2 separate regions of the Homo sapiens genome follow, and region 2 is reported to be linked to region 1. Evidence: microRNA targets listed by miRTarBase, many of them from high-throughput screens and not tested one by one. Region 1 holds a microRNA gene; the other region holds the end of a gene's coding sequence.
Evidence for each region. Region 1 holds the annotated microRNA hsa-miR-6808-3p (GUGUGACCACCGUUCCUGCAG, at 1,743-1,763, opposite strand). A microRNA usually pairs through its seed, bases 2 to 8, with sites in the 3' UTR of a target mRNA and lowers its output. Matches are read on the target gene's strand: a 7mer-m8 pairs with bases 2 to 8, a 7mer-A1 pairs with bases 2 to 7 and ends in A, and an 8mer does both.

Region 2: miRTarBase lists LAIR1 as a target of hsa-miR-6808-3p. Seed matches in the 3' UTR shown: 7mer-A1 at 2,050-2,056 and 7mer-m8 at 196-202.

What each region holds. Positions count from the first base shown.
Region 1 is chr1:1,337,908-1,341,243 of GRCh38, forward strand. MIR6808 (microRNA 6808) reads right to left here and starts at 1,801; the gene lies at 1,743-1,801. DVL1 (dishevelled segment polarity protein 1) reads right to left here. Exons shown (of 15, transcript NM_001330311.2): 6 at 2,503-2,596; 7 at 2,340-2,409; 8 at 2,131-2,270; 9 at 1,829-1,905; 10 at 1,675-1,742; 11 at 1,380-1,532; 12 at 615-746; 13 at 362-529; 14 at 70-276. RefSeq lists a silencer at 37-96.
Region 2 is chr19:54,352,416-54,355,811 of GRCh38, forward strand. LAIR1 (leukocyte associated immunoglobulin like receptor 1) reads right to left here. Exons shown (of 10, transcript NM_002287.6): 10 at 1-2,999. The coding sequence ends at 2,853. Among named protein-coding and RNA genes, the nearest start is that of LAIR1, 11 kb to the right of the region's middle.

The DNA.
Region 1 (3,336 bases):
GAGCAGCAGTGGAGTGGGGCGGAGCTGGGGGCGGAGCCGGGGAAGGGCAGGTAGGGGCGGCGTTCTCACCTTCACTCTGCTGACTCCCGGTGCTGCCGCTGCCATAGCTAAAGCCCGGGTCCTGGTAGGCAGGCGGGAAGCAGGGTGGGGGTCCCGGGTACTGGTAGGGGTAGCCCTGACCCAGAGGCCAGGGGGCAGCCGGGTGGGGCAGCGGGGCCAGCGTGTCCTGATCCGAAGTCCCACTGGAGCCACTGTTGAGGTTCAGGGTGGCGAGATCTGGCGGGGGAGGGTAGGTGAGGGCCGCGGAGGGGCCTCCGGCGTTCCCCTCCCCCCCGCCCTGAAGCCCGAAGCCCCCACTCACTGCTGCAGAGATCCCCGAAGACGTAGTAGCACTGCTCGGAGAAGGTGATCTTGTTGACCGTGTGCCGCAGGAAGCCGTGCTTCAGCAAGCTGCTGGCGTACTTCCGGGCCTCCCGCCGCTCCTTGAAGCCCTCCACGTGTGTGTACAGCCAGTCCACCACGTCCGCCCCTGGCCGGCACCAGCGGTCAGCCCGCAGCCTCGAGGCAAGCAGCCCTGCCCCTGGCACTATCCGCCCGCGGGGACGGCCACTCACCGATGACGGCATTGGCGATGGTGATCTTGAGCCACATGCGGTCGCGGATCTCCAGTCCCGAGTCTGGCAGCTGCATGACCCGGACGACGGCGCTCATGTCACTCTTCACCGTCAGCGGCGCCTCTTCCAGCTCTGCAAAGCACAGACAGCCCCGCTTCAGCCCCAGCATCTGAAGGCGGGGGACTCAGGGCCCTGCACCCCCAGGGGAGCCTCTGGGCAGAGCCTGCGCCAGGGCGCAAGCTGGACGGTGCGTGACAGCAGGGCCCCGGCCCACTGCAGGATGCACCCCCGTGAGGCTGGGGCGTGAGCAGGGGGGTTGGACATTTAGTCTCCCACTTCTACAGACACTTTTCATCAGGATCCTAGGCACAAACTGGGCTGACACCCCACCCTGCAGACCAGGAAGTAATGAGAACAGGGCAGGCCCCTTCCCCTCCCCGCATGCCCCACCCGAGAGCGCAGGCTGTTAGTCGTGTTAATGGCAGGAAGCAGAATGGAGACCTGGCCCCTGCCTCTGACGCCGTGGGTGCTCCCCGCATAGGGGCCCTACGTACATCCCCTGTTCCCAACACACAGACCATGAGCAGGATGGGCTGCACAAGGTGGGCACGGGTGCCTGTGCACACGTCTGTGCAGGGAGTTGGGGACAGGCAACACACACGTGTCACAGCCCCATGACGGCCACAGGCGGCCATGCTGGAGGCTGGCAGAGACGCCCCCTCCAAGCCTCGGTTTCTGCTGGGGCCCTCAGGAGCTGCCACTTACGTGGAGCACCAGGCACGGAGCTGGTTAGTGAGGAGGAGCTGGTGCGCGTGACGGCGCTGGAGCAGGGACTCGTACCGTAGCGGGGCAGGGCTCCTGTCAGTGCCGCCGTGTGGGACAGCCAGGCGGCGGGGTCGATGGGCCGCACCGGGTCAGCTGGGTGGCCGCCACGTGGCGATGACAGGCGGACAGATGGACAGGGTGGGAGGGCAGGGTGCAGGGCACAGAGGAGAGAGGCCTTCAGGCTAGGTAGGCGCCCCCTCCCCATCCCGCCCCGTGTGCCCCGAGGGCCACTCACCCCGTGGGACGGTGAAGTAGCTTCGGGGCGTTGGGTCCCAGCACTTGGCCACAGTGAGGCTGATGGGCCTGCAGGAACGGTGGTCACACAGCAAGGCCCCCATGGTCCCACCTCCCTGCCTGGCCCCTCCCGCTCCAGCGCCCCCAGCCCTCACCCCGTCTGGGAAACGATCTCCCGCAGCACCCGCACGGCATCGTCATTGCTCATGTTCTCAAAGTTCACGTCATTCACCTGCAGGGGTGGGGATTAGGGTGGTGCAGGCAGGATGTGCAGCTCAGTCCACCGCCCCCGCAGACCCACCCACAGCCGCATGTCCCCCAGCAGCCCCCGCAGACCCACCCGCAGCCGCATGTCCCCCAGCAGCCCCTACAGACCCACCCGCAGCCGCACGTCACCCCAAAGTCCCCACGGACCCACCCGCAGCTACATGTCACCCCGCAGCCCCCACAGACACACCTGCAGCAACATGTCGCCGGGCTCGATGCGGCCGTCAGCGGCCACAGCCCCGCCCTTCATGATGGAGCCAATGTAGATGCCGCCGTCTCCACGGTCGTTGCTCTGCCCCACGATGCTGATGCCCAGAAAGTGATGTCTTTCTGCAGGAAGAGCCATGAGCCGCGGCCAAGCCCCTGCCCCTGCCCCCAACCCTCGCCCCGAGGCCTCACCCATGTTGAGCGTGACAGTGACGATGTTGAGGGACATGGTGGAGTCGGTTATGCTGCTGAAGGAGGAGGCCTATGGAGGAGAGGGGGCGTGTGTAAAAGGCACGGGGCTGCCCGACACTGACTTCGCCTCCCCAGCCCCGCCCTGCTCCACCCGGCTGCCTACCCGGTCCGCCTGCCGAAGGCGCTGCTTCCTCCGCCGGCGTTTGTGCTTCCGGATGAGTCTGGATGAGGTGCTCTGCTCCGTGGAGCTGCTGAGCCTGGGAACAGACTGTCAGAGCTCAGAGGAGCTGGAGACATGGGTAGGGGGGTGGGAACCCGCTCCCCCAATACTGAGTGGGAATCGGGGGTCTAGGCCAGGCTTGTTCCAAAGCAGGCTCAGTGCCTGACGTCCACGCCCCAGGCCCTGCACACGTGATATGCATATGAGCACACACGAAAATCCCAGAGACAGGCAAACTGGGCACAGACACATGTAGCCAGATCCACTACTGACACACCTGCACACATGCACACCTGCACACACATGCACACCTGCACACACGCACCCCTGCACAAGGCACACATGCACACACCTGCACACACACCTGCACACACGCAACCCTGCACACATGCACCCCTGCGCACAGGCACACATGCACACCCCTGCACACGCACGCATGAACACACGCACACCTGCACACGCATGCACACCTGCACACACGCACCCCTGCACACTACACACCTGCACAGGCACACATGCACACCTGCATACTCACCTGCACACGCACCCCTGCACAATGCACCCCTGCACACACGCACCCCTGCACACACATGCACACCTGCACACACGCACCCCTGCACACAGGCACACCTGCACACACCTGCACACGCACGCCTGCACATGCACACCTGCACGCACACCTTCACATACACCTGTACAAGCACACCTGCACACACGCACATCTGCACACGCACACCTGCACACACGCACACGCACACATGCACACACCTGCGCACA
Region 2 (3,396 bases), not on the chromosome of region 1:
ATGTTCCCAGATCTCACCACCCTGAGTTCTGGCCCCTGCGTTGGGCGGGTTGGCAAGTCAAGAGAAAAAACAAGCCCCTGCATCTAATTTTCTGTCTTCTCTCTGGGCCCTTCCTCTTTCCACTAATATGTCAAGAAATAACAGTGTGGTATTTTTGCTTAATTTCCCCTAAACTCTATCTGTCCTGCTTTCCACTGTGACCTCACCACCTGAACTTCCTGGACTTCCTTACACTGGAGCAGACACTGGCATCTGCTCAGCTCTCCTGTGCTCTGCAAGGGGTAGAAAAATTCACCCATCCTCTGCTATGTGCAGACTGTCCACCTTCTGCTATAGAGTTCATGTACCCACCTGTCAACCTCATAGTCAAACAAACAAGACGTTATGGGAGAAAACACCCAGCTGATGGTTGAAAAACAACCAGAGAAGAAAGACAGAGATGTAGAAAAAGAGACAAAGACGGCTGGACGCAGTGGCTCATGCCTGTAATCCCAGGACTTTGGGAGGCTGAGGTGGGCAGATCACCTGAGGTCGGGAGTTCAAGACCAGCCTGAGCAACATGGAGAGCCCCCCGTCTCTAACAAAAATACAAAAAATTAGCCGTGTGTGGTGGTGCATGCCTGTAATCCCAGCTGCTCAGGAGGCTGAGGCAGGAGAATCGCTTGAACCCGGGAGGCAGAGGTTGCAGTGAGCCAAGATTGTGCCATTGCACTCCAGCCTGGGCAACAAGAGCGAAACTCCATCTCAAAAAAAAAAAAAAAGAGAGAGAGAGACAGAGAGACACACAGTGAGAGAGAAAGACAGAAAGAGAGACAGGGACAGAGACAGACAGAGCAGGGAGAATGTGTCCCACGTGAAGAACAGGGAAAATCGGTCACAATGTTCACACAAGAAAGCAAAGATACAGAGTACAGCACTGGGAAGCAGATCCCAGGAGGAAATTAAACCTGAGCACAAATAGAAAATTAAAGCTCAGTACAAATTAAAATTGGGTAGGCCAGTCAGGTACCACCCTCTTTGAACCAGCACAGAAACCTCCCAGCAGACCGAGCTGCAGCCCATCCCGGGGTTCATAATGTGGAGTCAGGAGCCTCAGGTGGGTCTGAAGCCCCTGTCTCTGAGACTTGGCCGACCTTGGACAGGTTACTTCATGTCTCGGTCCATAGTTTCTGTTTTTATAAATGAGGAAAATAATAGAGCACGCTGTGGAGGGTTTGTAGGAGAATTTAATGTGTCCACGTTTGCCTAGAACTAAATTAGCAACTGCCCCATAGAAAGAGCTGGCTGAGTTTTTGCTGAATTCTTAAAAATCTTTCTTTTCTTTTCTTTTCTTTTTTGACGGAGTCTCGCTCTGTCGCCCAGGCTGGAGTGCAGTGGCACCACCTCGGCTCACTGCAAACTCCGCCTCCCGGGTTCACGCCATTCTCCTCCCTCAGCCTCCCGAGTAGCTGGGACTACAGGCACCCACCACCACACCCGGCTAATTTTTTTGTATTTTTAGTAGAGATGGGGTTTCACCGTGTTAGCCAGGATGGTCTCGATCTCCTGACCTCGTGATCCGCCCACCTCAGCCTCCCAAAGTGCTGGGATTACAGGCGTGAGCCTCCATGCCCGGCCTGTTTTTGTTTTTTAAAGACAAACACAGATTAACCCAAATGAGATTCTGCCGCCTCCTAGTGGTACATAGGGTAATTTTCTGTGTCAATCAGTACATCTGACCCTACAGGTAGGGTGGATACTCAGAAATGCCTCAACCAACAGCAGGCTCAGTGATTCCTTGGATTTCCTGGGGCGTGTGAGTGTATGTGCATGTCTGTGTGTGTGCGTGTGTGTATGCATGTGTGTGAGAGCATGCATTCCTGTGCATGTATGTGCAGATGTGGACCTGTAGGGTCGGCTCTCTGCCTTCACCCAGCCACACCTCCCTCATTCATTCCTGATACACGTGATTTGTCAGAAAACACTGACACCAATGTGAAGTCCTAAGATGAGCAAGTTCAGAATATCTAATGTATCGTATCTGTGGCGATGGGTGCGCTGAGGAATTGATTGTGACTGTCATTGCACAATGTACGTGTACGACAAATTATCACATTTTACACCTTGAATACGTACAATCCTGATCAATTAAATTTTAAAAAGAAAACGCTGACACGTTTTCGTAAGTCCTGTTTCCCTCACTCAGCTTTGAACAACTGTGAAGGCAGAGAGTGGGTCCGAGAGACCTATGCACCCAGGACCAGGCCTGGGGCTGCCAGATGTGAGGCCTTCAAAATTATTTATTGATGCGTGGAGTAAAGCACAACCCAGAGAACTGGGCTTGGCTCTCAGCTGTGTGTGTATAGCACAGTCTCAAGGCTAGCTCTTGACTTCTAGGAAGGTCTTTAGGGTCAGCAGGGCAGATAATTACAGCAAAGTCTCTGGGGTCACTGGAGGTTCACAGCAGACACCTAGGACAAGCTTGGAGGTGGCATCACTGCTCAGGAAATCGGCTGATTGGCTGTAGCTGGGCCTTTAGAACAGGCAGGTGACTTTAGCTGGGTCTCTGGAAACAGTCAGGTGAATAAAGCTGGGTCTCTAGAAACAGCCAGGGAACTGTAGCTGGGTCTCTGGAAATAACTGAGAAACAGTCTGTCCAAGGAGCTGCTCGATTGTAGAAGGGACCACCTGGCTAACGAACCTTCTGGATGCTGGTTAGAAACCTCCAGTCTCCAGCTCTTGTCTCCAGGACAGCTGCCTGGCTGGCTTTCTAGATGAAGAGGAATCCAACAGGAAGCCTTCCAAATGGCTGCTTCAGGCTTTTCCTAGAGTGACTTTCTACCCTCAGGTGCAGAGGCCAGGTGGGTATGGGGTCAGTGTCTGGCAACGGCTGCATACGTGATGGACTCGGCCATGGGCTTTGTGGACTGTGGGGACACAGCCCGGGCTGTCCTCTGTGTGAGGGCCCAGTGGTCCAGCTGAGCATACGTCACCTCCTGGGAACTCCCTGCAGCCAGGGCCTAAGAGGGAGAGACCCAGGGTGAGGGAGTGCCTGGTGGAGGGTGAGACGAGGGGCTGTGGGGAGGGAGGGCTGTGGCGGCCATCTCCATGGGCCCTGAGGACCCTCTCCTAAATTGCATCCGTGTGAAGAGCCCTCCCACAGGGTATTGGGGTTGGTTTACGTGACAATGAACAAGGCAGAAGGGAAGACTCCTGACTTCCAAGCTGAGCCAAAAGACATGGTGCTTCTGTCCCCTCCCTGCCACCCATCCTTGGATCCCTCCCTCTGGGGGAAGCCGGCTGTGTGGAGAGGCCCCTGTGAGAGGAACAGAGGTTTCCTGCCCACAGCCGGGGAAGTGAGCGTCTTGGACGTGGATCCTCCAGCCCACGGGAGCCTTCGGATGCACACAGCCCTGG